Linked DNA regions of Homo sapiens: region 1 is linked to region 2. The links come from fine-mapping of genetic effects on gene expression. A gene starts in region 2. The other region holds a variant in brackets. All regions are shown on one strand. Distances are from middle to middle. Region 1 overlaps C19orf18 (chromosome 19 open reading frame 18). Region 2 holds the start of ZNF418 (zinc finger protein 418).

What was found. PIP is the estimated chance that this variant, and not a neighbour inherited with it, causes the effect.
Region 1: its variant is the best candidate, but not a certain one, in a credible set for the expression of ZNF418 in whole blood (INTERVAL, PIP 0.50).

Annotation. Positions count from the first base shown.
Region 1 is chr19:57,957,564-57,960,475 of GRCh38, forward strand. C19orf18 (chromosome 19 open reading frame 18) reads right to left here. Exons shown (of 6, transcript NM_152474.5): 6 at 874-1,154. The coding sequence ends at 1,039. Among named protein-coding and RNA genes, the nearest start is that of ZNF256, 11 kb to the left of the region's middle. The variant G/A (reference allele first, on the strand shown) is at 1,222.
Region 2 is chr19:57,934,206-57,937,117 of GRCh38, forward strand. It overlaps ZNF418 (zinc finger protein 418), which reads right to left and starts at 1,197. Exons shown (of 6, transcript NM_133460.3): 1 at 956-1,197. RefSeq lists enhancers at 600-1,482, 1,075-1,164.

The DNA of each region.
Region 1 (2,912 bases), 23 kb after region 2:
CTAGGAGTGGACTTGCTGGGTCATACAGTAACTCTATGTTTAACTTTCTGAGGAACCGTCAGATTGTTTTCCAAAACAGCCGCACCGTTTCACTCACTCTTGCCTCTTTGCATTCCCACAGCCCTTGGTGTCCACTTGCTACCTCTGGCCGTGTTTCTTAGCTCCTTGCCTGTGGGCCTGTTTCCCTCAAGAGAGCTGGAACCTGACGGCGATGAGTGTGTATTTCTTTTTTGTGTGGAGACGGGGACTCACTATGTTGTCCAGGCTGCTCTTGAACTCCTGGACTCAAGCAATCTGCCTGCCTCATGCTCCCAAAGTGTTGGAATTACAGGCATGAGCCATCATGACTGGCCTGGATGAGTGTGTTTTACTTATTTTATTTAATTATTTTATTTATTTATTTTATTTAATTAATTAATTTTTGAGACAGGATCTTGCTCTGTCAACCAGGCTGGAGTGCGGTGGCGCGATCTCGGCTCACTGCAAACTCCGCCTCCCGGATTCAAGCGATTCTCCTGCCTCAGCCTCCTGAGTAGCTGGGATTACAGGCGCATGCCACCATGCCTGACTAATGATGAGTGTGTTTTAATCCGGAGTCATATTTATTTTAACATCCTCAGTTTCCTCATGTGTACAAAGGAAACAAGGTATGGAGCTGACAGGTAATCTCACCAGGAAAGTTTTGCTTCATGAAAGCTATTCCCTGGCTAGTCTGGGAGATGGCCCCCCAAAACTACTTGTGCGGTATTTCTGGTCAGGAGCAAGAGAAGAAAATCCTGACAAGTTCTCTTAACCCTTAACAAAGTTGGATTCTATTCTATTTTCCAATTAAGTTATAATTATTCATCAACTATGAGAGCCAATAAGCAAGAGTTGCTATATCATGTGGCTTTATTTTCTGGGATACAGGTCTGGCATTTCTTTCTTTGATGTCCTCTTCCATAAGGTTCTCTGGGAGCAAGCCACGCCCACAGGCTCAGTCTCCCAGCACCCCCATAGTTTCTCCTCTGCCTCAGCCGGCACCTCTGTCGTCTGCGTTCACAAGTCTTCCATTTTTCCATTATGTGACGCATTCTTTGTTTTGTTTTCTGTTACTGAGTTTTGCTCTTCCTTCAGTTTCTTCTTAATATTTTTGCTTCTTTTTGATATAATAACTAAAATGTAGAAATGATGTTATTGAGATAGTAATAAGTGAGGAATAAAAATGGAGACAAAAGGGGT[G/A]AGGGAAAAAGCCTGGAAAAATAGAGGTACCAACAGTGGAATTTTCAGAGGATTCATAATGAATGTTATTTGTCTGACAAGGATGGTGAAAATTAAATTTTAAAATTATTTTCCCATATTTTGTATTCAAGTTGTATAAATGCCCAGTAAAAGAAGAAGAAGAATGTAGAAAATTTATAATCCAATGTGGTAAAGAGACATTGGGAAAATGTTTTCTACAGGTTATGACAAAGTCCTCTGCCTCAGTGAGCATCAGTGATCTCTCCTGCTGTGGCTGTTCTGCCTCTTTCTGGCTATGTCTGGAGTTTTTAGAGAGTGAGTCCATGTGAGGATGGTTAGTATGTCTGAATCACACACTACACTCTCTATAGTTTTCTCTCTAGAATTTTTTAAACAGGTACCCACGAATCTCAGAACTTCTAGGCTGGGCTCAGTGGCTCACACCTATAATCCCAGCACTTTGGGAGGCCAAGACGGGAAGATCTCTTAAGCCCAGGAGTTTGTGACCAACCTGGGCAACATGGTGAAAACTGTCTCTACTAAAAATACAAAAACTAGCCCGGCGCAGTGGCTCATGCCTGTAATCCCAGGACTTTGGGAGGCTGAACAGGGCGGATCACTTGAAGTCAAGAGTTCGAGACCAGCCTGGCCAACATGGTGAGACCCCCCATCTCTACTAAAAATACAAAAATAAGACAGGCGTGGTGGCATGTGCCTGTAATCCCAGCTACTCGGGAGGCTGAAGCATGAGAATCACTTGAACCCAGGAGGCGGAGGTTACAGTGAACCAAGATCACACCACTGCACTCCAGCCTGGGCAACAGAGCGAGACTCCATCTCAAAAAGAAACCACAAACAAAAATGAGCCCGGCATAGTGACATGCACCGTAGTCCCAGCAACTCAGGAGGCTGAGGTGGGAGGATTAACTGAGCCCAGGAGGTTGGGGCTTCAGTGAGCTGATATTGCACCACTGCACTCCAGCCTGGGTGACGTAGTGAAACTCTGCCTCAAAAAAAAAAAAAAAAAGAAAAAAGAAAAAAAAGGCCAGGAGCGGTGGCTCACACCTGTACTCCTAGCACTTTGGGAGGCCGAGGCGGGTGGATCAATTGAGGTCAGGAGTTCGAGACCAGCCTGGCTAACTGGTGAAACTCCGTCTCTACTAAAAATACAAAAATTAGCCAGGGGTCATGGTGCACGCCTGTAATCCCAGCTACTCGGGAGGCTGAGGCAGGAGAATTGCTTGAACCCAGGAGGCAAAGGTTGCAGTGAGCCAAGATTTCGCCACTGCACTACAGCCTGGGTGACATAGGGAGACTCTGTCTCAAAAAAAAAAGATAAATAAATAAAATAAATTCTACAGGCGGGGTGCATTGGCTTATGCCTGTAATCCCAGCACTTTGGGAGGCTGAGGTGGGTGGATTACAAGGTCAGGAGATCGAGACCATCCTGGCTAACACGGTGAAACCCCGTCTCTACTAAAAATACAAAAAGTTAGCTGGGTGTGGTGGCGGGTGCCTATAGTCCCAGCTACTCGGGAGGCTGAGGCAGGAGAATGGCGTGAACCCGGGAGGCAGAGCTTGCAGCGAGCTGAGATCATGCCACTGCACTCCAGCCTGGGCAACAGAGCAAGACTCCGCCTCAAAAAAAAAAAAAAAAAAAAGAACTTCTACAAAATCAGTTTTAAATAATC
Region 2 (2,912 bases):
GAACACCCTCTAATTCCCTCTGTGGGTTCCTTTTTTTGAGCCAGAGTTTCGCTCTTGTTGCCCAGGCCGGAGTGCAATGGCTCACCGCAACCTCTGCCTCCCGAGTTCAAGCAATTCTCCTGCCTTAGCCTCTGAGTAGCTGGGATTACAGTCATGCGGCATCACCACGCCTGGCTAATTTTGTATTTTTGTTAGAGACGGGGTTTCTCCATGTTGGTCAGGCTGGTCTCGAACTCCCGACCTCAGGTGATCCGCCCGCCTCGGCCTCCCAAAGTGCTGGGATTACAGGTGGGAGCCACCTTGCCCGACCCCCTCAGTGGGTTCTTTACGTGCTTTTGTAGCCAGGAGTGTCTGAGGGGAAAGCAGACGTTACAAAGGGGATCTGATAAGCTCAGGTCTCCTTGAACCTTTTCTTATCGCTGGAGCCAGGTGACCTCAGACTGGTTGACCTGCGTGTCTCAGTGCAAAATGTCATCTCTACCACCTATGTGATCTATCAACAAAGGAGTCAACCTCCCAGAACCCTAAGGTCCTCATCTCCTCTACTATGTTCTTCCTTTGGCCTTTGGGAAACCTTAAAAGCCTGGACTTGGATCGCATCCCTCCTTTCTTCGAAACTCTCCATGGCTTCTAGCGTCTTCACAGCGAATACACAGCCCCCAGCCTGCTCTTCCAGGAGAAGCTTCGCCTCACACGTTGTTCCCTACAGGCGCCTGTGGACCCCAGGTTCCATCCTCCCGGGTCTGTCCTCCAGGCCATAGCCCGCGCCGGTCCCTGTGCCTGTCGCTCTCCCCACCGCATCCCACAGGTGTCAGAAACAAGGACCTCTCCCGCGAACGCCTCAGTGTCCCGACGCCGGGTCCGGGCTGCAGACCTGTGAACAGTCGCCGCTCTCTCGCTGCTTCAGGATTCGGGTTAGGATGAGGTGACCTGAGGGCAGGGAAGGCACAATTACCTGAGCCGGGAGCCTCAGCGCGGCCGCCGCCATCCCGAGTACGCGGGGAAAGCACTGCCGGGAGCGGCGGGCGCCGTTACGGGGCCTAAGATCTGCCTCTGTGCAGCAAGAAGGACTCTTCACCTTCTGGGTTCAGACACCGCGGTTCGGACCCATAGCTCCAGCGCCTCTCACCTCACAAACCGCAGAAACACACCCAACATTAACCAAAATGGTCGCTACCAGAGAACGCTGAGAATCCCGCCACTACGTTACGTGCGCACACAGAAACGCCTTTATTCTGAGCCCTTACTGGTTCTGTTGCGCTGTCATTCAATGTAGAGCTTTCTGGGTAATGTAGTTCCCCAGGTTCCAAGGTAGTAAAGCTGCCGCTTCCCAAAGGCGCTTCTGCAGGGAAGTCCCAGCCCTACCTCAGGGGGTTCATTAAAGCGCGTACCCTTTTAGGGCAGAGGATGGTCTCGCCCCTCCTTAGAGGCCATATTGAGATTCCTGGGGAATCCCTGTTTGTAACTGACCACCTAAGTGTTTGCAAAAATATTAATTCACATTTCTGTAAATTCAAGCTCCCAGGCGCTAAAAATACTGTGAAGGCCCCCAAAGGCTACAAATCCAAATTCGTGTATCACTTTATACAATCGTTTAGACACAGAATGCTTGCACTGGAAGCAGAGGCTGATAAACATTACTCTGTTATAATTCACATGAATGCACTCTTGTTACCGGATAGAATGTCTTGGCTGTGAGTTGTCCAGTTGTTGGCGCATTGAACAAAGAAGTGAACAAAACACACAAAAAAAGCAACGAAAGAACGGACCAATGAAAGCGCAGATTTATTGAGGGGAAAGTACACTCCACAGAAGTGGAATGTAGGTGTGGGAGCAGGCGACCAAGCGGCTCAAGAACCCCGATTACAATGTTTTTTAGGGTTTTATTAGGTTGGTGCAAAAGTAATTGCGGTTTTTGCCATGAATAAGCTAGAATTTTATAATACCCCAAGAGTTCTTTAAAGGCCTCCAATCCTATGAAGGACTGGTGCACAACCAATCAGAGGCTGAAGTGGAGACTTCTGTCTTGTTACCACAGGAGTGAGGACGTGGCCTGTGTGCTGCCTCATCTTGCCTAGAACTAGCTGCACCTGCTGTTCTTTTGCTTATGCCTTCATTCTTGGTTACCCTAATTCCCTATTCTCCTGCCTCACTCTGAGGCATTAGAGTTGGTTTTTCAGTCTGCCAGGGACAAAAGAGAACTAATCCAGATAGGACCATGCCAAGGAAGATAGAGGAGAGGCTAAAGAAAGAGTACAAAGGTCAATCAGTCGTTCCCATGGAAAAACAACTCTCCTGCTTATATAGTCAATTATTGTGTCCAATTCATTCAGCAAAACATTTATTCATGTAATATCCCTTACTTGGTATTCTAACTTATATTTTCAACTCATTTTAGGAACTTGAAGTCAGTCTCAGGTAAAGAACAATGAAAGAGAAATCTCAGCTTGGTATTGGTAATGGTGGTGATAATCTCCACCTGGAGACACTAGGCGTATGTTAAATTATCGAGCTTGTTATCTTTCCTGGGAAGTGATTATCATTTGTTTCTCTTGTGACAGCGGGGAGTGTTCTGCATGAGGAACTAATATGATACCAGAAAAACAGGTGAAATGCCAGTTACAGAAACTTATTACCAACGACTATCTAATAACTGCGATGACAGAAATAGGTCAATTGAAACATGAGTGGATGGTGAAAAAAATTTACACTTCACAGAAGTTTTTCTTTCTTTTTTTTTTTTTTTTTTTTTGAGACAAAGTCTCGTTCTGTCCCAGACTGGAGTGCAGTGGCGCCATCTTGGCTCACTGCAACCTCCACCTCCCGGGTTCAAGCGATTCTCCTGCCTCAGTCTCCCAAGTAGCTGGGATAACAGATGCCTGCCACCACGCCCAGCTAATTTTTGTATTTTT